4 linked regions of the Homo sapiens genome follow. The protein of the gene in region 1 interacts with the protein of each later gene in a pairwise test. Each region holds a gene or a part of one and is shown on either strand. Other genes may lie near its edges.

The links.
Region 2: the proteins of HIBADH (region 1) and CLEC2A interact in binary tests that used the Homo sapiens proteins (3 or more experiments, as listed by UniProt).
Region 3: the proteins of HIBADH (region 1) and SCARB2 interact in binary tests that used the Homo sapiens proteins (3 or more experiments, as listed by UniProt).
Region 4: the proteins of HIBADH (region 1) and TMEM222 interact in binary tests that used the Homo sapiens proteins (3 or more experiments, as listed by UniProt).

The regions. Positions count from the first base shown.
Region 1 is NC_000007.14:27,526,739-27,534,247, forward strand, and holds part of HIBADH (3-hydroxyisobutyrate dehydrogenase, mitochondrial isoform 1 precursor), read right to left. Parts: intron 4,611-7,509; coding exon 4,454-4,610; intron 1-4,453.
Region 2 is NC_000012.12:9,914,897-9,922,405, forward strand, and holds part of CLEC2A (C-type lectin domain family 2 member A), read right to left. Parts: intron 7,337-7,509; coding exon 7,170-7,336; intron 1,908-7,169; coding exon 1,804-1,907; intron 1-1,803. UniProt on the Homo sapiens protein: Membrane-bound protein expressed mainly on keratinocytes which acts as a ligand to stimulate the activating receptor NKp65/KLRF2, expressed on the surface of natural killer (NK) cells.
Region 3 is NC_000004.12:76,203,443-76,210,951, forward strand, and holds part of SCARB2 (lysosome membrane protein 2), read right to left. Parts: intron 1-7,509.
Region 4 is NC_000001.11:27,325,050-27,332,558, reverse strand, and holds part of TMEM222 (transmembrane protein 222), read right to left. Parts: exon of another isoform or gene 6,034-7,509; intron 1,845-6,033; exon of another isoform or gene 1,840-1,844; coding exon 1,755-1,839; intron 1,575-1,754; exon of another isoform or gene 1,422-1,574; intron 1,319-1,421; exon of another isoform or gene 490-1,318; coding exon 458-489; intron 1-457.

The sequences.
Region 1 (7,509 bases):
ACAGGAAATACAGTTGCAAATATTACTTCATCCAATAAATATTTGAAGTGTGCTGACAATGTGCCAGAAGCTGGGATAAAATGATGAGCAAAACAGCCACAGCCCACCCAAACTCACATTGTGTTAAGGAGAAAGACAATTAAATAAGCATGGTATAATTGGATAGGAGGAGTACTATCATGGGATCCAAGGAAGCAGGGTCTGGGGTGCTGGGAAAGGTGAAGAAAAAGAAGACAGTGAAGCACAGACCTGGAGCCAGGTGAAAACATGGGGGTGGCAGGGAGGTGGTGGGCAAGGAAGAATGATCCATCCTGGCAGACAATGTGACAGCAAATGTGAAGCAAATGTGAAGGTTTCCAAGAGACAGAACAAGAGGGAGAAGTGAGTTCAGCACGATGAAAGCAAGGAGAGGGGGATGGGAAAGAAAATCAGTCTGGTTGAGGCAAGCAAAAGCCAAGGCATCTGGGGGCTTGTCAGACAAGTTGCAGGGATGGACTTTAATCTCCAAGTAACTGAAACTACAAAAGCTTCAAAGGAGAAGTGACACAATCAGGATTTTACATTTTAGAAAGCTCACTCTTGCTTTGATATGGAAAATAAACTGGAGAAGATCAGGCTGAAAGACAAGATCAGTTAAGATGTATTTGTGGTACAACACAAACGAGGCTCAGCCAAGGTACAGCTAGCTGGGGAGGAGGGAGCTGGATGAATTCAAGGCATATTCAAGAAGCAGAATGAACAAACGTCATGGGGAATGAGGGAGAGTAAGCCAAGTATGGGCACATCTTGTCTTAGTGTGCTTCACTTTATCATGCTTCACAGATAATGCATGTTTGTTTTTGTATTTTAATAATTGAAGGTTTGTGGCAATCCTGCATTGAGCAAGTCTATCAGCACTGTTTTTCCAACAGCATGTGCCCAGTTCATGCAGCTGTCACATTTTGGTAATTCTCACAATATTTCAAACTTTTTCATTACTATTATTTCTGTTACGGTGATCTGCAATCAATCAGTAACTTTTTTTTTTTTGAGACGGAGTTTCTCTCTTGTTGCCCAGGCTGGAGTGTAGTGGCGCAATCTTGGCTCACAGCAACCTCTGCCTCCTGGGTTCAAGTGATTCTCCTCCCGCAGCCTCCTGAGCAGCTGGGATTACAGGCATTTGCCACCACCACACCCAGCGTTTTTTTTTTTTTTTTTTTTTTTTAGTAGAGACAGGGTTTCACCATGTTGGCCAGGCTGGTTTCAAACTCCTAACTTCAGGTGATACACCTGCCTCGGCCTCCCAAAGTGCTGGGATTACAGGCATGAGCCACTGTGCCCAGCCGATCAGTGATCTTTGATGTTACTATTGAAACTGTTTTGGGGTGTCAGAAAGCGCACATAAGATGGCAAACATAATCGATAAATGTGGTACACATGTGTTCTGACTGCCCAGCCACTGAATGGCAGCTCTCTCTCTCTTACCCCTCAGGCCTCCCTATTCCCTGAGACACAAAATATTGAAATTAGGCCAATTAATAACCCTACAATGGCCTCTTAAGTGTTCAAATGAAAAGAGGAGTCAGCTGTCTCACACTTTAAATCAAAAGCTAGAAATGATTAAGCTTAGTGAGGAAGGCATGTAGAAAATCAAGACAGGCTGAAAGGCAGGCCCATTAAAACAAACAGTAGAATGCAAAGAAAAAATTCTTGAAGAAAATTACAAATGCTATTCCAGTGAACACATGAATGATAAGTGAAACGGCCTTACTGCTGATAGGGAGTAAGTTTGAGTGGTCTGGATAGATCAAACCAGCCAAAACATTCCCTTAAACCAAAGCTTAACCCAGAACAAGGCCCTAACTTTCTTCAATTCTGTGAAGGCTGAGAGAGGTGAGGAAGCTGCAGAAGACGTGTGAAGCTAGTAGTGATTAGTTCATGAGGTTTAAGCAAAGAAGCCATCTCCATAACATAAAAGTGGAAGGTGAAGCAGCAACTGCTGATGGAGAAACTGCAGGAAGTTAGTTATCCAGAAGATCCAGCTATCACTGATGAGGGTAGCCACACTAAACAACAGATTTTCAGTGTAGATGAAACAGCCTGCTGTTGGAAGATATCATCTAGGACTTTCGCAGCTAAAGAGAAGTCAATGTCTGTTTCCAAAGCATCAAAGGACAGGCTAACCCTCTTGTTAAGGGCCAGTGCAGCTGGGGACTTGAAGTTGAAGCCAATGCTCATTTACCATTCCAAAAATCCTAGGGCCCTTAAGAATTATGCTGAATCTACTCTGCCTGTGCTCTCCAAATGGAACAGCAAAGTCTAGAAGAAAGCACATCTGTTTATGGGATGGTTTACTGAATATTTATTTTAAGCCCACTGTTGAGACCTACTGGTCAGAAGAAAAGATTCCTTTCAAAATACGACTGCTCACTGACAGTACACGTGGTCACCCAAGAGTGCTGATGGAGATGTACAGGGAGATTAATGTTGTTTTCATGTCTATGAACACAACATCCATTCTGTAGCCCATGGATCAAAGAGTCATTTTTCAACTCTTATGTGAGAAGTATTTCATAAGGCAATAGCTACCATATATAGTGATTCCTCTGACAGCTCTGGGCAGAGTAAACTGAAACCTTATGAAAATAATTCACCATTCTAGATGCCATTAAGAATATTTGTGATTCATGGGAGGAGGTCAAAATATCAACATTAACAGGAGTTTGAAAGAAGCTGATTCCAATGCTCATGGATAACTTTGAGGCCTTTAAGACTTCAATGGAGAAAGTCACTGCAGACGTGGTGGAAATAGGAGAACTAGAATTAGAAGTGGAGCCTGCAGATGTGACTGAATTACTACAATCTTGTGCTAAACTTGAAGGGATGAGGAGTTGCTTCTTATGGATGAGCAAAGAAAGTGGTTTCTTGAGATGGATCTACTCCTGGTGAAATGACAGAAAGGATTTAGAATATTACACAAACTTAGTTGATAAAGTAGCATCAGGGTTTGAGAGGATTGCCTCCGTTTTTGAAAGAAGTTCTACTGTGGGTAAAATGCTATCAAACAGTAGCACATAAATCTTCTGTGAAAGGATGAGTAAATCAATGCAGTAAACTTAAACTTCATTACTGTCCTATTTTAAGAAATTGTCATAGCCACCCAACCTTCAGCAACCGCCACCCTGGTCAATCACCATTCATCAACCTCAAGGCAAGACCTTCCACCAGCAAAAAAGGACTATATGACTCACTGAAGGCTCAGATAATTGTTAGCTTTTTTAGCAATAGAGCATTTTAAAATTAAGATACGTATATTGTTTAGACATAATGCTAATGCACACTTAATAGACTATGGCATAGTATAAACGTAATTTTTATATGTACTGGGAAACCAAAAAATTTGTGTGACTTGTTGTGGTTGTCTGGAACTGAACCCACAATATCTCCAAGGTATGCTTGTGTGGTATCTAGGTATATGTATTCTTTTTCTTTTTTTTTTTCTATTTGAGACGAAGTCTCACTCTGTTGCCCAGGCTGGAGTGCAATGGTGCTATCTCAGCTGACTGCCATCTCCACCTCCCGGGTTCAAGCGATTCTCCTGCCTCAGCCTCCTGAGTAGCTGGGCTTACAGACACGCACCACCACGCCCGACTAATTTTTTTTATTTTTAGTAGAAACTGGGTTTCACCATGTTAGCCAGGCTGGTCTCGAACTCCTGACCTCAGGTGATCTGCCCTCCTCGGCCTCCCAAAATGCTGGGATTAAAGGCATGAGCTATCGCGCCTGGCCGTATTCTTACTTTTTAATCAGGAAAAACAAACAAACAAACAAACAAACAAAAACCAACCCTCAACTGGGAGAAAATAAGCACTGCAGAAATCTGAAAGTTAGCTGGTCTAAAAATTATTTTCTGTAGTTGAGAACATAGACTTTCTAAAGTTGAGATCTCAAATAAGAGAAGGATGACAGTTTGCTTTTCCAATGACTTAACTAGTTTTTATATATAAATCCATATATTAAAATCTTAAAGCAGGAAGATGTATTTGGAAATCTATTATCAATGGGAAAATCCTCTCTTCGTGATGCATATATGCACTGCCAGTGTATTATTAACAATGAGAAAATTCTCACTGTTCTCATTTAAGAAGTTGGTAAATTAACATAAATTAATGGTGAACGAAATTTTACCGGCTCATATAAATAAACCCAAGTGCGCACACACACACACACGCACACACATACACACACACACATGGTCTGGCCCATTCTTCTCAACCAAAAGGCCAGGAATAAAAATGAACAAGATAAGGATTTTCATCTAAGTTAGGTTTTTACTCATTTTCAGTGAGAGTGAATATTCTAGTAATTTTGCCTCTTACCTGAGACATATGCTTTATTAAGAGAAAGAGAAGGAAGGTGTTATTGGACCGTGAAACGTTTTTCCTTCTCTCTTGGGTGTCTACATTTACCATACCTTAGCCATGAGTGTTGTTCCAAATCCACCCTGATAGTTATTAGCCGAGGGAACGCCATCCATCACTCCAGGTACAGGATTATAAGTGTCACTTGACCAACACCGTCCTGAGCTCATATTTAGGATTTTAGCCAGTAGTTTTGGGTCAAGCCCTAACCTGTCAAAGGTCAAAGAAAAGAAGTGTTAAGTGTCAAAATGTACACGTCGTGCGTGACTTATTTATGTATGGGGATGCTCCATCTTCTCTCTCCATTTATTATATGTCTTCTAAAATCTAAGCAGGTTGATACGAGAGTGAAGAATCCAATTTTGAATTATAGAGTACTAAACACTACTGGTTAAATAAGAATATTTTTGAGCCAGGACCATTTTGCATTTGGAGAAAACCTTCTATGTTATCCTATTATTAAGAAAAAATAATATACAATTGCATAAAAATATTGTTGGTTTATCACACTCATGGGTTTTCTAGTCTTTGGACATTACTACATTTATATGTCACATAAGAACCTTAAAACAATATGATAATTTAAATTCTACATTCTTTACCCACAAATGATATATTTCAGAAAGAAATACTGACAGATAAACGATGCATCATGGGAGTCTGTGTGAATGCATTTATATGTATGTTTATTCCTTTAGTTTTTATGAGAATAAATGCAAGAGATGAGCCAGGAGCTGTAAACGAGCTTAAGAAAAGTTATTATAAAAGAAGACTTTTTGCTGCAAACTTTTCCTTATTTATTAAATCTTTATTAGACAATCTTGCTTATGAAGCAAGTCTGCACAGAGTTGTGACATATGCTATCTATTCAGAGACATGCATTATAGTTCTGGGTCAACTGCTGATAAGGTTACTGATCCTGATAAAACAAAGCTTGCCCAAGCAGAAACATCATTTGTTCTATCACTGGGCTGATGGCATAAACGGCTGTTCAATGTGGACCCTAGAAAAAATAATAGAATCAAAATGCTCCATTACTTGGATTCTAAAGATATAATGCAGTTTGGGAAGCACAATTTTGCTAGGTATCACTGAATCAAGTTTCAAATAAAACTTTATTCCTAGCAATTTATTTGGTTTCTTTCATACACAGAGCCATTATGAAACAATTGTCATAAAAGCTTTCCACTTTTTCTTAAAACCAACCTCTTCCAGAAAATAAAAAAAACACTGAAAAGAGACACTTATGTAAATGTTAAACAAACTGTGCATCTTGGCACGCTCAGATTGTTTACTCTGTGTGTCTAAAACACATGCCTGTTTATTTCAAAATCTGAATATCATGGCCAATAAAACATTTTTTCAGATGCTAGAGCAGGGGGCTGAGGCTAACAGCCAAAAATATGTATGGAATTACCACATAATACAACTGTTATGTAATCAGGCTTTCAAGGGGTAGCTGTGGTTCCCAGACTGCTATGTGGCATATCATGTATCTGAATTCATATGGTGGCCCATGTTATAGTGATGGATTTTACTAAGGATTGTAACAGATACAGAAATTCAGTCTAAATTGGCTATCATTCATTCTGTTCAACTGTAGATTCCCAGAGAGAAACCCAACAGTTTCATTCATTCTTTTATAAAGATCCAAGTTCACTGCATGCATAGTATGCTACTGATGCTTGCTTTCTCCTTTTAAATAAGATTAGGCTATCAGTATGCTACTGTAGTATATCACTTAGGAAAAGATAAAGCCAGTGTGCTTAGGGAATAATTGTGAAAAGTAAAATCACAATTAACAATTAGTTAATTTGCTATAACTGCAAAGTACCAAATGTTCAAGAATGCATACATCTAATATGCTCCATAAGGAGAAAATACTTTTAAAGACTCCAAAACGTCACTTTCTCTCTCCATTTGAAATATAATTTCAGGGCTTCCTAACTTAGATCTTTTAAGATGGTTCATCATATTTAAAGCAGCAGAATTCCTTCCTTCTTTCTAATCTACCAGGTTACACTCAGTAGTAGCTCACAAGAGCTTTTACAGCTAAGGAAATTCACTCTTTTCTATAATATTCAACAAAATGGTGAGCAAAGCTAATTATCCTAACTTTGTAAAACCCTACATTTTTCTTGAATGTTCAAGGAAAAGTACTGGTATTGATTGATGGAAACCCTTTCTGGTGAACACATTACTATTTAGAAGCATCCTGAGGGGCACACACAAAAAATCAGGTGGCAGTTGTTTCATTCTCACTTTTCAAATCTGATGCTTCCCCACCGTGCTGATTCCCTTCAGGAGATAGTTATTCCCTCTCCACTTCCCTCCCCCTGCCCCCACCCGCAGCAAAGTGTATCATTAAAAAGAGCAAGTTAGAAGTGTTTTGCATTTCATCTTTCTGAGGATTCGTTCTCTGGCACATACATAACTGACAGTTAAAATTAGACATGATATTAAAATCAGTTACTGAAGTCCTCTGTTTTCCACTGTGCCCAAGGCTTGTAATGGTCTGAAACCAGCTAGAATACACAGTAATTGTCATTCAGAGTCTATCCTAGAACGTCATGCTTCACTGGAGAAGACTGAGTTTCCATTCGAAATCAACAAATTAATCCAAGACAGGTATCTGAAAGGGCAAGTTTAATAGGAAGCAGCTACTGGGCTCTCAACCATGATAAAATGTTATTGCTGTTTCCCTGTAAATTGGCTGGGAACATATGATACTTTCTGCATAAGAGCCCCATTGCTGTTCAGAAGATATACAGCTCAAGCCATCAAAAGAATGACAGTCTGTCAGTCCCCATAATAACTTGCCACTGGATGTGGTTCGAGAGTGCATGCGTGCATGCATGTGGCTTTACAATTGCTGGAATGTTCTCTGATATAAACAGAATGAATTCATCGCTCTGACTGCATATATAATGCGTCTCAAATAAACGTCACTGTGTCAAATCTACTCACCTCTAAAACAAGAATTTTAAATGAGGTTTGGAAGAAGTAAAAATAATGCATAAACTGCAAAAAAATTTAAAAAATTAAACATTTGCCTTCACTGTAACCAAGACTTTAAGGGCCAAAAATGTTTGTTTATATTATCTGTGAG
Region 2 (7,509 bases), on another chromosome or scaffold:
AAACTATCATCAGAGTAAACAAGCAACTAACAGAATGGGATAAAATTTTTGCAATCTACCCATCTGTCAAAGGTCTAATATCCAGGATCTACAAGGAACTTAAATAAATTTATAAGAAAAAAAACATCAAAAAGTAGGCAAAGGATATGAACAGACAACTCTCAAAAGAAGACATTTATGCAGCCAACAAACATTTGAAAAAAAAAGCTCAACGTCACTGATCTTTAGAGAAATGCAAATCAAAACAATAATGAGATACCATCTCATGCCAATCAGAATGGCAATTATTAAAAAGTCAAAAAACTAAAGATGCTGGTGAGGCTGTGGCGAGATAGGAATGCTTATACACTGCTGGTGGGAGTGTAAATTAGTTCAACCATCGTAGAAGACAGTGTGGTGATTCCTCAAGGATCTAGAACCAGAAATACCATTTAACCCAGCAATCCCATTACTGGATATATACCCAAAGGAATATAAGTAATTCTATTATAAAGACATATGCACACATATGTTTATTGCAGAACTATTTACAATAGCAAAAACATGGAATCAACCCAAAGGGCTATCAAAGATAGACTGGTTAAAAAAAAATGTGGTACATATACACCATGGAATACTGTTCAACCATAAAAAAGAATGAGTCCATGTTCTTTGCAGGGACATGGATGAATCTGGAAACTGTCATCCTCAGCAAACTAACACAGGAACAGAAAACCAAACACTGCATGTTCTCACTCATAAGTGAGAGTTGAACAGTGAGAACACATGGACACAGAAAGGGCAACAACACACACTGGGGGCAGTAGGGGGTGGGAGAAAGGGGAGGAAGAGCATTAGGACAAACAGCTAATGCATGTGGAGCTTCAAACCTAGATGATGGATTGGTAGGTGCAACAATCCACCATGGCACACACATACCTATGTAACAAACCTACACATTTTGCATTTGTATCCCAGAACTTACAGTAAAATAAAAATATATTTTTTAATTAATTTTCTTTGTTGATAAACAAATCTTTCCTTATTTATAAGTATAATTTGTCCTGTCTTGCATATTTCAATATTTGTTTTATTGGTTGCTTTTTTTAATCTAGCACGTTACTAAAATAATAAGGCAGAGATACATATGTATCCAAGAAACAATTATATAAATAAAAAAGTAAGCTAAATAAAAAATAAACAAAAATTAAAAAAATAAATATAATATTGCTTATGATGAACATTTGGAAAGCTAAAGACAACTATACAATCCTCAACCATTTTAACCCAAGAAACACTTTTAACAATTTTAACCCACCCAGGAAATGCTTACAGAAATAAAAATAAATAAAATAAGCAACAAATAAATAAAAACAAGTAGTATTCATTGTGGTGGGCATTTGGAATGTTAAAGACAACTATAAAGTCTTTAACCCTTTAAAGACAAAGAAATCTTATATACACTTTACTTGGAAAGAAGTACAAGTAATACGTGAGTTTTGGCTTAAAATTTGCAGAATGATTAAATTTGAATTAGCAAAAGAGAACTAATTGTCAAGCAAGAGCTTGATAATAAAGATAAAATAACAAATAAAAATAAAAATGGAAGATTTCACCATGTGTCATTTAACAAGGTGAGAAGAAAATGGGTTGCTCTAGGATATGCTTCAATGTGAAAGGGCATATGTCATCGATTGGAGACTGAAAAGTTAATTCCACATGGAAAACAGAAAGATTTGTTTATAATAATACAACTCAAAATGATTTAAAATTTTTCATATGACACACCAGAATAAGAACATTGCTAATACATTGGAAACTCACCAACCATTGAATGTGGTGCCATTTGTCCATTTCCAAGAATCTCCTTGTTTCCTGCTTAGTCCAATCCAGTGCATATCAGTTCCTGCGTACCTCTTCAAAAATTCCTTTCACAAAACAAAGGGAATCAGCGATTACTTAATATGTTACAGCACATTGCTGAACATGCTTCCCACCCCAATTATTCTATCTTTTAGGATTCACATTCTAATTTGTCTTCCCTGATGCTTCTATAACAACAAACAGCACAGATGTTGATGTTTGGGTTAGTTTTATCAGAAAGATTTTCATTTTGCTTTTTTGCATCTTAAGTATCTCCAGATAATTGGGCTACAACCAAGTCATTGATACCCTTTAGTATGAATGTCACTGATATTGTATGTTTTTTCATATAATCAGAGATAAAACTAACTTCTATATAAATATAATTTACTGCAATGAAATCTATTATGTGATGGCTTTAGTCACTGCTCTATTGGCTTTTTGCTATTAAGCCACAAACCTTTCATTAGCTTTTTGTTCTTTTAACTTTTATTTTAGGTTCTGTGATATATGTGAAGGTTTGTTACAGAGGTAGACTTGTGTCATGAAGGTTTGTTTTACAGATTATTTCATCACCCAAGTATTAAGCCCACTAACCAATAGTTATATCTGTCATATCTGCCATCACATAGTTCTGGGTTAATTATGGCAATATGCTAATTGAGATCAATAGGAGAGGACTGGAAAGTGTTTTATGTACATCATTTACATAGGCACTGAACAAACTTCTGTGTTAAACAGAACAATTAACTAATTAAAAGTGAGTCTTACCCAATCCAAATATACATGTCAGTACTAGATCAAAGATAAAAGTAGACAGACTCATTAGTTCACAAAAGTCATTTAAAAATTAACTCATCCATAACAAAAGAATCATAAGTCAATCACGTAAACACCACCGCAACCATTGTTGTTCTGGTTTTAGCTCTTTGAGGAATTGCCACACTGCTTTCCACAATGGTGGAACTATTTTCACTCCAACCAATAGTGTATAAGTGTTCTTTTCTCTACAACCTTGCTAGCATTTGTGGTTTTTTGACTTTTTAATAATATCCATTCTGACTGGTGTGAGATGATATCTCGTTGTGGTTTTAATGTGCACTTCTCTAATGATCAGTGATGTTGAGCTTTTTTTCATGTTTGTTGGTGAAATGTATGTCTTCTTTTAAAAAGGGTCTCTTTATGCCCTTTGCCCAATTTTAATAGGGTTGTTTTTCTCTTGTAAATTTGTTTTAAGTTCCTTAGAGATGCTGATGTTAGACTTTGACAGATGCATAGCTTGCAAAAGTTTTCTCCCATTCTGTAGTTTGTCTGTTTACTGTGTTAATAGTTTCTTTTGCTGTGCAGAAACTCTTAAGTTTAATTAGATAATATTTGTCAATTTTTGCATTTTTTTTTACTATTGCTTTTGTTGTCTTTGTCATGAAATTTGCCTGTTTCAATGTCCAGGATGGTATTGCCTAGGTTTTCTTCCAGTCTTTTTATAGTTTGGGGTTTTACATTTAGGTCTTTAATCCATCCTGAGTTGATTTTTGTATATGGTATAAGGAAGGAGTCTTGCTTCAATCCTTTGCATATGGCTAGCCAGTTATTCCAGCACAATTGATTAAATATGGAGTTCTTTTCCTATTGCTTGTTTTTGTCAGCTTTGTCAAAGATCAGATGGTCGTAGGTGTGTGTCCTTATTTCTGGGCTCTCTATTCTGTTCCACTGGTCTATGTGCCTGTTTTTGTACCAGTACCATGCTGTTTTGGTTACTGTAGCCCTGTAGTATAGTTTGCAGTCAGGTAACATGATGCTCCTAGCTTTATTCTTTTTGCTTAGGATTGCCTTGGCAATTTGGGCTCTTTTATGATTCCATATGAATTTTAAAATAGTTTTTTCTTTCTAATTTCATGAAGAATATCATTGGTAGTTTGACAGGAATAGCATTGAATTTCTGTCAGTTCAATGCCATTCCAGCCAGTTCAGCCTCGTTAAGAACTCTTGTTGGAGAACTGGTGCAGTTGTTTGGAAAACATATGACACTCTGACTATTTGAGTTACTGGAGTTCTTGCATTAATTCTGTCTCATCTCTGCAGTGGGTGTCAATTTAACTGCAGTGTATATTTAGTACAGTCGATAGATCTCTTTTCTGTTTGTTTTCATAGGGCTGAAGCTTTGTGCAGGGTCTTTATTTGAAGGTGACTTCTTTAATTTTAGAGGGGGTTATGTTAGTGAGATATTTTTGGTGTTGAAGATTTGAGGTGTGATCCAGTAGGTTGCGCTTGGACGTATTTGTCAGTTGGGAGACTCTTGATCCATTGTGTGACTCCCTTACTTTTCCTCACAGTTGCAGCCATGTTCTCTCTCAATGTTCTGAAAATGTGGGTTTCTCTCCCACTTGAGTGCTGGCTATAGATTGTGACTTGGCAATTCTAGGCTGCCCACTGCAGCTCTTGGGTGATCTCAGTGTTTATGTTTCTTCCCCAACTTGGAGGCAGCAATGGAAGAGACCTTAGTAGTGGTTAAAGCCAATGGTCTTTTGCTTTTCTCCTGGGAGCTTCACTCCAGAGAGATGCAAGTAAGCAATCATTCAGTGCAATCAGCCCAGGATGGAGGGTCTCTGCTGTGGGCCCAAGCTGGAGGTTCCATGTCTGGTGATGAGCAAGGTGGGTGAGCAGAGCCTGTGGAGATGGACTGGCCTCCTCTCCTGCAACTTGTTGGAGGTGTGGATGAGAGACTTAGGGTCTTTGCTCCTTCATTAGTCTGAGGGCAGCAAGGGCAGTTCCAGTGCAGAGGCAGTGGCAGAGAGGTTTCCTGTTGCCCCTGGAGGCTCTCTCTAAGACATTCCAGAGCTGCTACTGGCTCAATAGCGCTTGCGAGGGGGGCTGGAGGCCCAGGCCTGGAGGACCCTCCTGGTGAGGAGACAAGGAGATGGGCACTCATGTAACAGTCTGGCCACTTTATCATAGGGCTGCTGTGGTATGCTGGTGGCCATCTCCAGTCCCTATTTACCTCGGATTTTCTGATACCTGTAGGTACCAACAGTGAAGCCTACAAAACAGCAAAGAAGGTGGCCTGCCCCTCCCTCTGTGAGCTCTGTGCCAGGGAGGTACATAGCTATTACCGGCCCAAGAACACCTGTAGGAGGCAGCTAAAGACCCTGGTTAGAGATCCTGCCCAGTGAGGAGGAATGGGATTGGGTACCCACTTACAAGGGCAGTCTGGCCACTTTTTTGTAGAGCAGCTGTGCCGTGCTGGGGGACCACTTCCACCCCTGGTCAACTTGGACTCTCCAAAGCCTGAAGGCTGGATGGCTAAGTCACCCAAACAGCAAAGATGGCTGCCCACATCTCCCTCTGGGAGCTGTTTCAGGGAGGTGCAATGCTGTTATTGATGGCTGGCTAGAACTCCAAGCCAGTGGGTCCTATCCTGTGAGATGCCATGGAAGTGGGTCCTGCAGAATGTCGCTGCTCAGCCTCCTGGATTCAGCCCCTTTACTAGGGATGTGTAAGGGGGTCTAACCTCCCTCTTCGCTGGAGTTTCAACTACTTTTGCTGGGAAGCCTGGAACTCCTGGCTATCTGAGGCTCCCGGGTCACTGCACATGCCTGAGAGGCTGCTCTTTTGAAGCTCCACTTAGCTCTGTGTGTCAGACTGAAGGCCCCGGTGGAGTTGGTTTACAAGGGGATCTCCTGACCCGAGGGTTGCAAAGATCCATGGGAGCAGCATGGGTTCCAGGGGTTGCACATTCACTCACCACTTCCCTGGGCGAGGGGAGTTCCCCTGGCTCCATGTCGTTCCCAGGTTGGCCATCGACCTGCCTTGCTTTTCTTCATTGTCTATGGGTTGAGTTGTTTCCTTGATTAGTTCCATTGCGTGTACCCTGGATGTTTCAGTTCAAAGTGCTGTATTTACTCACCCCTTCAGTTCCTCTCTTTGAGAGCTGCGCACTCCAGCTACTTCTAGTCGGCCATCTTGGCCACTCTCCAACCCCCAGCTTTTCTTTAAAAACTAATCTATTTTCTTACTCTGTGTCCCTAGAGTCCACGTGTCTCCTTCTTTGCCCTCTTTACTTCCATTAATTCACTCGCGTCTTCGAAGTGCACATATTTCCTTCATTTCCTTGTCTCTAAATTCTAAGAGCTGTATTTTTAAAAATTTTTTCTGTCTATGCTTGGTAGAATGCAAATTGAAAAGGGTTTAAAAAATCTACTTAATAATCTAAGAACATTTAACGAAGACATTTAGATACATAAACAGTATGCATTGTGGTAAAGGACATGGCATCACTAGTCATCTTGCCTGGGTTCAAATCCCAGCCCAACAACTTATGGCTGTGTCATTGGCTGGGTTACATAACATTTCTGTGACTGACTTTCCTCATCTTTAAAGTAGGGAGAGTTATATAACTCCTTCATGGGTGTTAGTAGAAGATTACATGAGATTATATAGTTTCAGTGCTTAGAACACTGTTGAGCACACATTGTCATACACAGTTGACTCAAACAATGTGGCAGTTAGGGGCACTGACCGCCTGTGCAGTCAAAAGTCTGTATATAACTTTTGACTCCTCAAAAAGTTAACCATGCTGTTTATGGTATCTCATGCTAATTCTAGCACTTTGGGAGGCTGAGGCAGTAGAATTGCTTGATCTCAGTTTGAGACCAGCCTGGACAACATAGTGAGACCTCATCTCTACAAAAAATAAACAAAATTAGCCAGGAGTGGTGGTCTGCACCTGTAGTCCCAGCTACTCAGGAGGCTAAGGTGGGAGGATTGCTTGATCCCAGGAATTCAAGGCTACAGTGAGCTGAGATTGCACCACTGCACTCCAGCCTAGGTGCCAGAGTGAGACTCTGTCTTAAAAACAAACAAACAAACAAACAAAAAACAAAAACAGAAAACTTAGCCACTAGTAGCCTGCTGTTGACTGGAAGTCTTACTGGTAACATAAAAGTAAATTAACATATATTTTCATGTTATTTGAATTATATGCTGTATTATTACCATAAAGGAAGCTAGAGAAAAGAAGATGTTATTAAGAAAATCACAAGAAAGAGAAAATCTATTTACTATTCATTAAGTGGAAGTGAAGACATCGTAAAAGTCTTCATCCTCGTTGTTTTCATATTGAGTAGGCTGAGGAGGGGGAAGAAGAGGAGGGTTTGCTCTTGCTGTCTCAAGGGTGGCAGAGGAAAAATAATCCAGGTATAAGTGAACCCACACAGTTCAAACCCATGTTGTTCAAGGATCAATTGTATTATAGTATTAGCTATTATTGTTTTATTATGTTTTTATACAAACAATCTCTGAAATTACTGAAGACTTTTCTGTTTTCTTACCATGTCTTCTTGTGTATCAATCTGAGCAAGTTCTGCTTTCTGCAAACTACAAAATATTTTACTGGCTGTCCAATTTCTGGTATCATCAGAAAAATAGAAACACTTATCTCTCACTCCAAGCCAGTCCCCTGAACATGCCACAGGTTTAGCATGCTTGGACCATGTGGCTGAAAAAAAAAGAAAGAAATGATCAGATAAAGCATATGTTAAAAAGTGTTTCTACTCATTCAGGTGTATTAATTTTACTTTTTGCTTCCACAGTTTGAGGCCCGTAAGTTAGCTTCCCCCCTCCCCAGAATGAGGATGAATTAACTTCCCCTGTCTGTAAGGAAGATCATTT
Region 3 (7,509 bases), on another chromosome or scaffold:
TTTCAGAAATCTTTGCTTCCTCAGTAGTGGCAAAATAGCATCTTCTTGTTTGAACTTGCATTTCTTGAATTACTGGAGAAGCATAACAGTTTTTACCATGTATGAAGTGAGACTGTTTTAAAACAAAAGTAAAAGAATCTTCAACCAGCATAAGCTTCCATTTGGGTACACAGAAGGCTGGTCAGAGACAGAACTGAGAACAACCTCTCTGAGCTGTGTGTAGTGAACATGGAGTCGCTGGCCAGGCTGACACCTGACCTGCAGATGAAGGAACAGATGCAGGCTGGATTAGCTTGACTGCTGAACACTGACATGACTTAATACAGCCACAACCCAAGTCAGCCTAACAGCAATCTTTTGGGAAGGCAACACCATGAGAGTGGTGAAACCAGCTGTCCTGATGTAAGCCACTTCCAAGTGATAAAAATAAGCACTCAGGGAATCCATTAGGCTTTCACGGGAATCAGTAATACCTTTAAGGAAAGTTTCGGGATTCGAGAGCACTACTGGTTGTTCTTTAAGGTCAGTAAAGTGCTACTTCATAATTAAACACAACTTAAGCATCCATGTTGCCATCTGCACAGTCTAAATTCATCCAGAGATAATGCAGACCAACTTGGAGAACTTGCCCTAATTGTGTATGGATGGTATATTGGCCTAATTGTATACTGGACTCCAGATTAATAAAACTCATCAAATGGCAAAACACCAATTGATTTGCTTTGTTTTTTAAAATTGCTCCCTGAAACGAAGCAAACCCAACCCAGACTCATGCAGTAATTTAAGTAATTTCCACTGTTTACATAAAAGAAAGAAACTGCCATTAACATTCTACTCTTATTCCCTGACCTTATTTTAACTCAGTAAAAATGTATTGGCATTCATTTATTTATGTCACTGTTGCTTAACTCATTTTCATTTTGCAACTGTCATAATTTTAACTAATGAGCTCTGATAGTTCAGATTCAAATGTAGCTCATGGGTGAACTGTACTTTGTTTATAAATTACATACAGGACAATATGGTGGAATGACAATCCCAAAAAACCTCCTGCTACAAAATACCCACTAACTTATTTTTGAAAGTTTCTAGGTGATTACAAATGTACAGCCAAGTTTGAGAACTGATGACCTAAAGGGAAAAAAAGCAGCTACCGATAGAAACTTAAACATAGAACCAGGTGAAAATTGGGAGCGGGAGGGGAATATATATATACATATATGGGGAGTGGGGAGGCGGGTGAGAAAGAGGAGTTTCAGATGTGAATAAATAAGAAATAAGGCCACGGAAACAAGGCCCACATTCTGTGTGTAACTTGCACAGCCAGTCTCATTATTTTGCAACCTGTTTGGTTGTGATTATATCTCTCAAAATTGAAATAAGTAATATTTTCATTACCTACCTATTTCTATGTCTCCTCTTCCACTACTGTTGATTATCAGAAGTACAGTGTTAAAAGAAAATATCCTTAAAATGGGAATTGTGGGCGCTGGGAGGACTGGTGAGATGTTAGTCAAAGGACACAAAATTTCAGTTTGATATAAACAAATTCAAGAGATCTAATGTACATCATGGTGATCACAGTGGATAACAATATATTGGGCCAGGCACAGTGGCTCACGCCTGTAATCCCAGCACTTTAGGAGGCAAAGGTGGGAGGATTGCTTAAGCTCAGGAATTTGAGACCAGCCTGGGCAACACAGCAAGACCCCATCTCTACAAAAAAATATTTAAAAATTAGCCTGGCATGGTGCACACCTGTAGTTCCAGCAACTTTAGAGTTTAAGGCAGGAGGATGGCTTGAACCCAGGAGGTCAAGGCTGCAGTGAGCCATGGTAGTGGCACTGTACTCCAGCCTGGGTGACAGAGAGAAGCCCTATCTCAAAACAAAAACAAAAACAAAAACAAAAATAAAATAAAATAAAACCCCAAAATATTGTATATTTGAAAAATGCTGAGATTAGATTTTGTGTTCTTACCACAAAACAAAGATAAGTAATTGAGGTAAGGTGTATGTTAAACAGCTTGATTTAGCCATTTCACTATGTATATCTATATGTATATCTCTCTCAAAACATCATGTTGCATGCCCTAAATATGTACAATTTTGACTTGTCAATTAAAAAATGAATTTTAAAAAATGGGACTTGTGATGAGTGATTACATTAGTGTAACAATGGCACTCTGCCTCACACTGTCTCTGGAAAGTGTGTAAAATTCAGATGCTGAAGGGGCCAGATGGCTAGGGCAAATGAGTGACACAGGCCATGGGTTTGTACATTTGTTTGCATGTCAAACCCCAGCAGCAATATTCATTTCTACAGAGAAACATGCCCTCCCCCATTTCTGTTAAACACATGATCCTCTCAAGCTATCTTTCATTTTCCTTCTTTTGGTAAGGAGTGTCAGATATAGAGAAACATTTCTCTACTCTAAGAAACACAACAGCACATGCACAACAACGGATACCTTCACTGGGCCTTGGGAGCCAATAAGGGCGCAAAGGACGGTGGGTGCTGTGGTCTGAATGTTTATGTCCCCTCAAAACTCCTTTGTTGATATCCTTACCCCCAAGGTGGTGAGATTAGGAGGTGGGGCCTTTGGAGGTGATTAGGTCACGAGCGTAGAACCCTCTCGAATGGGATTAGTTCTCATAAAAGGTACCCCAGAGAGCTCATTTGCCATGTGAGGTTAGAGTGAGAAGACCATAATCTATGAGGCAGTGGACCCTCACCATACCCCAAATCTGCCGGGGCCTTGATCTTGGACTTCCTAGCCTCCAGAACTGTAAGAAATAAATTTCTGTTGTTTATAAGCCACCCAGTCTATGCTATTTTGTGACAGCAGCCTGAATGGACTAAGACAGTGGGAAACAGGGAAGGCAGGTCTCTTCTAAGGGTCAGCCTCTTTTCTGCCGAGACAGCTACCACACAGAACTTGGTATGACGAGTACCAAAGAACATCCACATGTTTCAAGAGAAGCTGGAAATCTGGACCAATACGTGAAGTTTCCAGATTTTAAAGGTATAAATCATTCATGAGACAAACATGTGACCACTGGCCTACAGAGTGAGGCAAAATGTGAGACTAAACAACAAAATGCAAACAAAATCATTTCCAAAGAAATTATTTTCTCTATTCATCCAAGTAACACTTACTGACCATCTATTTTGAATAAGACATTGCATTTGGCAGTAAGAAAAGACACAAAACTAAATACGACAGGACATCTACCTTCAAAGAGAGCTTTCATACTAGATTAAAATACCAAATTACGTCATATGGGTTGAAAATCCCCGCAGGGCTGAGGCCAGAAGGGAATTACTGAGTAATTCAATTATGGAGATATGAATGCTCTTGTCTACTTTGATCAGCACTCGGGGAAAGACAAGAGATTGTGGAACTGGAATTACTGATGGCCCAAACTCCTATTTTTAACACTGGACTCACAGGAAAGCCAAAAGGACACAGTAAATCAAAGACACACCAAGCAAAATCCTGGTTGTTTGAAAACATTAACAAGATAGCTTCCAAACTGGCCTTACAGGAATATAAAACAGGGATATTATGTATTTTTAAAAATATTCTAAAAAAATAATTAAATGAAAACTAGATCAACAGTTCTCAAAGTGTGATCTCAGGACCCCTGGGGAGCCCGAAGACCTTCTTAGGAGGCGCCCACAAGGTCAAAACTATTTTAATACTAAGGTATCATTTGCGTTTTTAATTCTATTATTTCTCTGAGTGTAGAGTGGAGTCTTCCAGAGGTTACGTGATATATAATGATGTCATATTGGAATATGTGCTTGTGTAGTCTTCTGTTTTAAACATTTCTCAAAAATACATATCAGTTTCAATTTCTAATATTGTAACTATCAATAGGTATGGAAACATAAGTTCTTTGGGGTCCTCAATAATTTTTAAGAATATGAGGGGCCCAGGAGTTTAAATTGGATTATAAAATCTGCAAGGGTAGAGACTGCCTCTTGTTTAGTGTTATATCCATAGCTCTTAGCACACTGCCTTGCAAATGGTACACACTCAGTAAATATTTGTCAAATGAAAGAATGACTGCCAAAGCATGTACCCAAAAGTGCATTTAGATATAGAAAGCAAACACCTAAAGTGGTCTTTATTTTTCCTTGGTTGTTTTTTCCAGTTACCAGCTTGGATTAAAAATGGTCCCTTCCTTAGTGTATAGTGTATAGATAGTGCATATCTTGATGATATGGCCAGGAATGTCTAGTAACTTGGCCAACATCCTATGTTTTCATCAATGAGCTTATAATTCCACCTCCTGATTCTTCCTGGGAAATAAGCAAATGTCTGGCAGAACAGATGGCCCCTCTGCTGTGGCCTGACAGAATGAAATCTTGGATTTATTTAACAATAAAGCAAAGTAGTTTCCACAGGCAGGAATCTTCCCCTCCTCACCAAATAATATTTCCTTTAATGTAAACTTGCAGATTAATAGTAATTATAAGTAGTAATCTCCTCAGTCAGAATTACCATCTTAAGGAATGAAGACATGGTCTAAAATAATCACTATACAAATATAAACACCTTTTTTAAAAATGCATATTCCCAAAATTGCAGATTACGATCCCACAGCAACCTGCCTCCAGTAATGGATTTTATGATAAGCACTTTAACCTGAGTTCTGTTCCTAATGAGTCTGATTCAGCAAGTCTGGGATGGGGTCTGGTATTTTCTAAATCTTTGTAAGTGATTTAGATGCATCTCCTAGAGTCTAGGGGCTATGCTGACAACTGTTAGCCTACTATATTGTCTTAATCATTAATAAGGAATGCACTCATAGTCAACATGAATTAGTAAGACACTAAAATAAACTTAATATGATTTTGATATCACAAGATCGTGTTTCTAAAAGCCAGGAAAGAATTTGGATAATTTTGCTTAGGAGTTAGAGAATCTTGCAAGGAAATTAACGACACTGCCTCCGTTTACAGTGCTATAGTTTCTTCCTGTGCTGAGCCAATCACATTGCTCCGTTATAAACTTGGAAAAGAGAAACTAGGAGATGAAGCATGTCTATGAGAGGTCAACAGCTGGAAAGTCACACTGAGGCGGGGCTGAGCAAGCCCGGATGAGTACAGAGCCAGGCTGAGTAAACAGAGGAAGCCTGTTGGTGGAGAAAGCAGAGGAAAAAGTGGGAGGCAGAGTGTGCCTGCTTCCTGCTGACTTTCCACTTTCGGTTGTCCTCTCAGGAGGCCTTACTGTGCCGTGGTTCTTGCCCTTTGATTTCTATGAGCTTCCCCTTCCAGATTTACAGAAACAAAAAAAAGAATCCTCTCTTGCCAGAGCTAGTTTGAGTAGGCCTCAACTCCTTAAGAGAGCCAAGAAGCGGGATACATTGTGGTCTGTAAGGACAATGTAGCATGAGAGGTGAGGGATGGCCATAGAATTTATTGTCCAAAGCAGAAATCTTTTGGAGGAAAGGGGGTGTTAGTGATTACACCAGCACAACAGGTACACAGAAACCATGTAGGACTATTCCAGGCAAATGGGATGTATGGTCATCCTTGAGATGGGAAAAGTGGGTTCAGGATCAGAAGGCTAGCTGGCACGCTCTCTCCTTCCCTCTCCATTTGACTTTAGATAAGTCACTTCTATTCCAAGAGCCTCAATTTCCTTGACCGTAAGATAACAGATTTAAGATATCTTTACAGGTTTTTTTCTGATCAAGAAAAATCTCAGACTAAGATAAGTCTTCTTTGAATAGAGGCAACTCAGGAGATGAGGTAGATATGCAAGAAGGAGCCTTTTAAAATGATATATAGCTGAATGCCTTTACATACACATCAATAAAGATGTTTTGCTGATTTGACTTTAAAAAACAAGATCCCATAGTCACCAATCAAAGCAATCTGGTTATCAGTGATTACATTTTACTTCTTTTTTTATTTTTATTTTTATTTTTTTTGAGACAGAGTCTTGCTCTGTCGCCCAGGCTGGAGTTCAAGGGAGCCATCTTGGCTCACTGCAACCTCCGCCTCCCGGATTCAAGCGATTCTCCTGCCTCAGCCTCCCGAGTAGCTGGGACTACAGGCACCTGCCACCATGCCTAGCTAATTTCTGTATTTTTAGTAGAGACAGGGTTTCACCATATTGGCCAGGCTGGTCTCGAACTCCCGACCTTGTGATCCACCCGATTCAGCCTCCCAAAGTGTTAGGATAACAGGCGTGAGCCACCACGCCTGGCCTATATTTTACTTCTTGAGGAATCGGTAGAACAGCTCCAGAGTTTCTATGGCTCCCAAAAGAAACCAGCTGGTACTGACTTGCCCAGAGCCTCAGGTCCAGATGAAGGGGAAGTGTATTTGTCCTGTTCATTGCATCTCTGAGACCTAATGCTACAGTCCTGCCTTGACCTGTGAAGAGGAAGTCAAAGGTGTAAACAGTCTCCCACTGGTTCCCTTGCCATCCCATCCCTTGTTGGCCAGCCCTGACTGTGGCCAGTTCTGCATCCCTATTACTGGGAGACAGTCAACCTGCCAGCACGTCTGCAGAGATTAGGAGCGCAAACTTAATATTCTGAACTGCATAGCTGCTCTTAAAGGTCATGGGATCTCAGAAGTTTGGAGCTAAGAGGAACCATAGCTTGTATAATAAGTTTCAATTCACAGATGACAAATATAGCTAAAGACATAACAACTGTTAACGTTCAGGCATTGTGCGAGGCATTGTGCTGGGTGCTTTATAGATATCATATTATTTCATTCTTGTGACAACTCTGAGTTAAGTATTCTTATCCTTATTGTTCCTATTTTCAAAATGAGGATCCTTAGGATTTGAGGGATTAAATAACTTGCCACTGTGCTTGTTCAGCTTAGTCCAAGAAATCCTTAGGGACAGAAAAAAAATGTTTGATTCAGTTCTGCTGATTCTCAGGACACTCTTCTTTCTATTAAAATGATCACAGGCGAGTGAAGAGGCATTTAATATGTATCTCAGGCACTGTGCTAGGTGTCAAGGCAGTTCACTGGGATACCAGATGAAATGTAACGTAAACTCCTGCCTTTCCAGGCCTAAGGGAGGAAAAGGAACTGCTGGGTCTCTGCAAAGCTCTCTCTTCATGAAGGCCCAAACGCTTGTAAGGAAATGCCTTATTAATGCTCACAATATCCCCTAGGAAGAGGGTGTGGGAAAAAGAGAAGTACTATTATGCCTCTCTTGCAAATGAGAAAATTGAAGCAGAAACAATTACAGGCCTTGCCCAATACGAGGCAGTCACCACTGAGGCCAAAAATGAAACAAAATTGTCTTGGTTCCTTCCACGATATTCACTGGCCAAAATTAAAAGTCTCTCTTCAGTTACCTCTGGTCACTGCAGGGTTCAAGGACAATTATCATTTGAGACAACTTTTTGGATAGGAATTCTCTTACTAAGCTTCCCACACCTACTCATTTGAATTTCATCCCTTTTCCCTCTTCCCTTTTTGACATAGACAAGTCGGGGCATAGACAATCTTCAAATGAAAAAACAAA
Region 4 (7,509 bases), on another chromosome or scaffold:
AAGGTTGAACGGTTTTTATTCTCTCCAACCAGAACTTTCCAGCAGAGCTCCAAACAATGCCTCTCTTCTACCTTCCATGCCTCATTTGTTCCCAAAGGGCAGGAGAGTGAGTCTAGAGGGAGACAGATCTGGGTGTGGGTCCCAGCTCTGCCACTTCCTGTGTGACCTTGACCAAGTCCCTTCCCTTTCCTCACCCTTGCCATGGAGTTGAAAATACAAACCTGAAGAGCTGTGGCAAGGCCCAGATGGTCTACAGGTAAAGGCCCTAGCCAGGGGCTGGTGCGGTACACACTCTGTATGGGGTTGCCATGCTCTGGTGGACCCTGGCTGACCTCTCCCCCGACCCCAAATACTCTATTCTCAGGGTGCTGGCCCCTCCTGTGCCCCAGAAGGCCTGGCCCGCCCCGGCAGGAGCGACCTGCCTCTAGAGCCAGTCACATGGGTGTTCATCACTTACTTGGCAGGCTTTCCAAAGGCCATGTTGTCCTCCTGTTGAGGGACAAAAGCAGAGGTCAGTGAGGAACTTACATTTGGGCCAGATGACAAACCTGGGTAGGTGGCAGAAGTGCAGTGACTTAGAAGAGGGTATGTCAGGGGTGGGGGGGCCAGAAGTGGGGCCTGGGCCCTGCCCTGGGGCTGGCATGGCATCTAAAGAGCTAGCAGCTGTTCTGCAGGAAGAAGGCAGTGTGGCACAAGTGCACAGAGCACTGCATCAGAGACCAAAGATCTGGGGCTCCAGCTGCCACTGTCCCTTGGTGTGGCACCCAGGAATTCTCTTGCCCTCTCTGGGCCTCATTTTCTCCAAGTTCTCTGGTCAGTCTTCTCTGATCTCTGAGGACCAGCAGGAGGTTTCCATCATGGTCTGGCCTCCTGACTCAACAGTGGTGGCCCACATGGAGACCATCTCCTCGCCCAGCAGTCTGACTGCATTCATAGCAGGGCGGGGGCGCTGGGCCCAGAGGGACTTCCTGTGAGGGAGACACTGCAGTGAAGTCCTAGACTCATCACATTATTCCTGGGGTACAGGACTTACACAGAGACAGACTCTGGGTTCAGATCAGGGAGACCCTGCTGACAGACCTGGTCAATGATTAATCACCATAAAAATATATGATAAAGTAATGGATGTGAAAGTATTTTTAAGTACAAAGTGACAGACCTTTGTCGTGTTAAGATGATCATGACAACTATTAATATAAACAGGTTGGTGCCACCACACCCCTTCAGTCCAGCCTCTGACACCTGGAGACAGGATGATGCATGCTCCTCTGCTGCTAGCCCACTGGACCAGTCTTGGTCACAGCCCCAGGGAACAGACCTGAGAACACAGCTGCTTCATTCTAAAGCCCCACCCCCTCTTCTCCATGGCCACACCCAGGGAACCGAATCAGCCTCCCGTGTCCCCCCACCTTGACTCCCACCTTCTGAAGGTCCAGAGATGTGGTTCCTGGATGGTCTGACTCTCCACTCTTGCCTCTAATCCCTACCCATGTCTCGGTACCCCAGGGGTGGGGGCAAAGGGCTGGGTCAGTTACTTAAGAATCCTTCTGGCCACACTGCCCTCCCGGCCTGTCCTGGAGGCAAGAGAAGGGGGAAAGGGGTCAAACACTGGTGAGGGGCAGAGGGCCAGGGCCAGGACTGCGGGTTATCTACGTTCTCCTGGGTCTGGGGAGACGAAGCCTGCCTGCAGGCAAGACAGGACAGCCTTCCACTTAAACCTTGGAACCCCCCGGGTGGGCAGAATGGGGACTCACTGAGACAAAGTAGGGGCCCGCGAAGTCCCGAATGACTCCTGTGGATGTGCAGATGCCCATGTGGCCGATGATGGGGAAAAACCACCTGTGAGGAAAAGGACGGGGAAGGGACAGAGCTTAGGGGATCTTTCAGCCAGTTAGACGGACGCTGGGGACCCTTCATACAGTACAGAAGCATGTGAATATTACGTTTCATTGACAGGTGGCCATTAGGGTGGTCCAGAAGGCTGGGGAAGCACAGACAAGGGTAACTGCAAACCGACAGCACAATGGGATACCTCAGCATCCCGCCAGGATGGCTGTAACTCAAACGACAGCAACACCAATGCAGGTGAGGGCAAGGGACAACCAGAGCTCTCATTCACTGCTGGTGGGAGGGATAAACTGTTTCTACCTTTTTTTTTTTTTCAAATGGAGTCTCGCTCTGTCGCCCAGGCTGGAGTGCAGTGGCACAATATTGGCTCACTGCAACCTCCGCCTCCCGAGTTCAAGCAATTCTCCTGCCTCAGCCTCCTGAGTAGCTGGGACTACAGGTGTGCACCACCACGCCTGGGTAATTTTTGTATTTTTAGTAGAGATGGGGTTTCACCATGTTGGCCAGGATGGTCTCGATCTCTTGACCTCGTGATCCACGTGCCTTGGCCTCCCAAAGTGCTGGGATTACAGGCATAAGCCACTGCACCCGGCCTACCATTTTGTTTTTGAGATGGAGTCTCGCTCTCTTGCCCTGGCTGAAGTGCGGTGGCACAATCTCAGCTCACTGCAACCTCCGCCTCCTGGGTTTAAGCAATTCTCCTGCCTCAGCCTCCCGAGTAGCTGGGACTACAGGAGTGCACCACCATGCCTGGCTAATTTTTGTATTTTTAGTAGACATGAGGTTTCATCACGTTGGCCAGGCTGGTCTCGAACTCCTGACCTCAAGTCATCTGCCTGCCTCGGCCTCCCAAAGTGCTGGAATTACAGGCGTGAGCCACCGTACCCGGCCTGTTTCTACCATTCTGGAAAACAGTTTGGCACTATACTAAATGCCTCAGCAGTTTCACTTTTGGAACCTTCTTTGCCCTCACCCCTGGGAAATAACATTTGCCAAAACTCATTGAACTGTACTCTTAAAATGTGTACATTTTATTATATGTAAACTATAATTCAATAAAATTGATAAAAACAACTAGAAAGAATCCAAATGTTCAACAACAGTACGATGAATAAGTGTGGTATAGTTATACATTGAAATAGTCCATAACAATGAAAAACAGTGTCACTTCTGCTACACACAACACAGGCTTTCACAGACATAAGGGTGAATGAAGGAAATCTTACACAGAGTACGTAACATAGCACTCTGTTTACGTGAAGTCCAAGAAAAGGCAAGACTGATCTATGGCTAGAGGTCCACAGCGGGGTGGAATCTGTGGTAGAACTGACTGGGAGGGCACAAGGGGGTCCTCTGGGTCTTAGCATTGCTTTCTAGCCCCCGTCTGGGTGGCGGTTACATGAGTGTGTGATATGCAAAAATTCTTCCTGCTGTATACTTGAGATTCGCACACCGTTTGGTACATAAGTTATACCTCAATAAGAAAGTTAAAAAAAAAAAAAAAGGTGGGCGGTCATGACACCAGTATGGGTGGGGGAGTTCAGGAAAGGCTTCCCTGAGGAAATAACAAAGAAACAGAATGTGCAAGGGTAGAAATTGGAACAGAAGCATGGTGTATGCCAGGAAATAAAAGTTCCTTTTTTATAAACCATGGGCATTAAAAAACAACAATAAATCTCAGATGCACCCCAATATGTCACACATAGGAACCCCAGACCTGTCTGTGTTCTGAGAACCATGGCCCTACAGGACCTGGGTGCTGGAGAGACTGATCCAGTTTAAGGAGAACTCACAGGGCCAGTGGCCGAGTCCTGGCCTCAATGCTGCCTGGGCACGAGCATAAAGCACCTGGCTAGGGGTGCAGGCCAAGCCTCCAGAGACGCAGTTTAAAAAAGCAGTTACAGGGGGCTGGGGTGGAGCCAGTAAAGACTTCACAGAGGAGGTGACTTTTAACCTTGACCTGTGAAAGGACACAACATCAACAGGCAGAAAACAACACTGCAGAGCAAGAAAGTGGTACATGTGCCTGGAAGAACGAAAGGGGGAGAGGCCAGCTCAGGGGCTACTGCTGTACCACTGGCAAGAGATGATGGAGGTCCTGACTAGAGGATCAGGGGCAGGGTGGTGAGAAACACATGGATTCAAAAGATCTTTCAAATGAAGACTGGAGAGTTTACGACTGACAGGATGGGGGTCTTCCAGGTCTACAGCTTGAGCGCTTGAGACAATGGTAGGGCCAGAGTGGTCTTTTGAGAATTGAACTCAGATTCCATCATTCCCCTGTTCAACACCTATTAATGGCTTCCTACTACACTTATAATACACTTCGAACTTCTTCCAACACTGTGGTGCTAATTATCCCTTGAACTTCATCTCAGTCCCCTCTCTAGCTACACTGCCTGCTTGTGGCCTCAAACACGCCAAATCCTCCCACCCCATGCTTTCTCTGTATCTGCCCTCTCCTCCGTCTGGAACACTCTTCCCAGAGAGCATGGCACAGCTGACTCCTCACTGATTAGGCCTCAGCCTCACTGTCACCTTCGGAGGTCTTGCCTGAACGGTGTCTTCCAGCACAGCCACCCAATCCCAGATCCCACTACAATGCTTTACTTCCCTCATAGTATCTACTACCATCCAAAATTATCTTGGTTATTTATATGCTGTCTCTCCACTAGAACATAAGCTCCAAGAGAGACAGGATTTTTTCTTGTTTACTACGGCAGTGCCTGTATATAGCTGCAACTCACTAAATATTTGTTGACTAAATAATGAATGAACATCCTGCATTTAAGAGTAGAGTCTGGGGCTGGGTGCTGTGGCTCACGCCTGTAATCATAGCACTTTGGAAGGCCAAGGCAGTTGGATTGCTTGAGCCCAGGAATTTGAGACCAGCCTGGGCAACACAGTGAGACCCTGTATCTAAAAAAATCTAAAAATTAGCTGGAGGATCACTTGATCCAAGGAAGTTGAGGCTGTAGTGAGCCAAGGCTGGGCCCAGGAAGTTGAGGCTGCAGTGAGTCAAGGCTGGGCTCAGTGGCTCACGCCTGTAATCCCAGCACTTTGGGAGGCAGAGGCCGGTGGATGACTTGAGGTCAGGAGTTCGAGACCAGCCTGGGAAACATGGCGAAACCCTGTCTATACTAAAAATACAAAAATTAGATGGGCATGGTGGCATGTGCCTGTAATCCCAGCTACTCGAGAGGCTGAGGCACGAGAATCACTTGAACCCCGGAGGCGGAGGATGCAGTGAGCTGAGATCACGCCACTGCATTCCAGCCTGGGTGACAGAGCAAGACTCTGTCTCTAAATAAATAAATAAATAAAAATTAAAAACAACAAACAAACGCCAACAGTGAAGTCATGCTCAGATATCATCTGGGTTGAGGCTTGCCTTTGTTCTGGGCAAGTTACTAATTCCCATCTCTCTGTGGATAGTAAAAATTACCTTAATGAGGAGCTATTGTGAGGATTAAATGGATAGACTTATCCATTTACACAGTGCCTAGGACTCTGCCTTCCGCTTGGCAGCTGCTCAATGTTGTCATCTCGAGGTGTTCAATACATAAGCACTATCTGACTGACTGCACTAACATAGAATAAGTTGCAGAAGATCCACAGGCCACAGGATGGACATTCAGGATTATGGGAAAGTAGCTCATCCTGATCTCAGGACTGCCCTCCACCCCCATCTCTGCCCCCTAATCCTTTCATCTGCTTGGGAGGAAGTCTGGGTCCAACCAGGATTCCACACGCCACAGCTGTGCTGGCAGCAGTGGATGGAAATCAGAGTAAAGGCTGGAAGCCCCAGAGAAGAAACCCTCAAAGTGGTTTGTCAGCCTGGAAGCTCCAGGAAGGCAGCTCCAGAGCCGCTTTGTGGACTACCTTCTATTCAGGACCTAGTACATAATAGGTGCTTTATAAAGATACAATAAATGAATAAATGACTCACTCATCCTGGAGCTCAATCTGGGAAGGTAGGCTAACTCAGCAAAAGAGCACCACACTGGCTTCTAAGCCTTACTTCCTCATCTATAAAATGGTGACAACAGTATCTACTTTCATAGGTTGACATTAGGATTGAGTGAGTGAACATACAATGTTTAGGACAGAGTAAGCATCTAATCTTAGCTGTTTTTATTAGTAGCAGCAGCTATTAAACTAGTTTCTTTTTTTTCCCTTTTTTTTGGTTACAGCAGCACTTTTATTTTTCCTTACACAATGACATGCCGCTGGGGCCTAATGTTCTCACATAACAGTAGAAAACCAAAATCTGTTCTCATCTCCTTAAAGAATCGAGAATTGCATACAAAAAAAAACCTTACATAAATTAAAAGGATGAATACATTTACAGGTGTAAATGCAAACTGCTTCCAACTCAAAGCAAGTCACAGCCCACAGTGTTCTGGCAGGAAAACATCAGCTAAGAAAGGAAACTGGGTCCTATGGCTTGGCCTTTCCAACCCTGACAGACCAGCAGGACAGAAACAACTGGTTCAGGAGCCCTTGTCAGCCTCTAGAGAAATCCCAGAACACTCAGCCATGACATATTAATACCCTGCAAAGATCGGAGACTGCTGGCCATGCAGACTCACCAAGTCGCACTTGTCTTCCACAAGCACATTCTTACCTTGCCACGCAGTGACCAAGCCACATGTACTAAGGGTTGAAAGCAAAGATATGTACAGGGTATTAAACAAATACCAAGGGGAACAGTTAACTTGAATACAAGGTCAAAATCAGCAACAAGTTCTACAATCCAGTGCTGATATTAGATACAAGCTTCAACGACAATTTCTTTTCGAAGGCTTATTCCATTTTCGTGAGGCTAGCATGAGGTATATGCATTTGCCAGGGCCAATTTATACTTCTGAATTAACCCATGCAGCAAATGCTACGCATCGGCTCGCAGTCCATTTAGAAGCATTTGCGGTGGACGATACAGGGGCCTGACTCGTCATACTCCTGCTTGCTAATCCACATCTGCTGGAAGGTGGACAGTGAGGCCAGGATGGAGCCGCTGATCCACACAGAGTACTTGCACTCTGGGGGCACAATGAGCTTGATCTTCATGGTGCTGGATGCCAGGGCGTTAATCTCCTTCTGCATCCTGTCGGTGATGCCCGGGTACATGGTGGTGCCTCTGGATAGCCCTATGTTGGTGTACAGGTCTTTGCGGATGTCTACGTCACACTTCATGATGGAGTTGAACGTGGTCTCGTGGATGCCGCAAGATTCCATACCCAGGAAGGAAGGCTGGAACAGCGCCTCCGGACACTGGAACCGCTTGTTGCTGATGGTGATGACCTGGCCATCCGGCAGCTTGTAGCTCTTCTCCAGGGAGGAGGATGTGGTAGTGGCCATCTCCTGCTCGAAGTCCAGGGAGACAAAAATATGGAACGCTTCACGAATCTGCATGTCATCCTTGCGCAGGGGCCATGCTAATCTTCTCTGTATCGTTCCAATTTTAGTATATGTGCTGCTGAGGCGAGCACTAAACTGGTTTTTCATGCAGAATTACCAACATCTCTGAGGGGGTAGACAGATCTTTGGGTTCCATTTCCTCCTCTGATCTCTCCTCCAAAGACAGGTGACAGTTACTTGCGCCACATCTATGCCTAGCTCTGCAATCATCACTATACAGTAATACTACGATGGCTAATT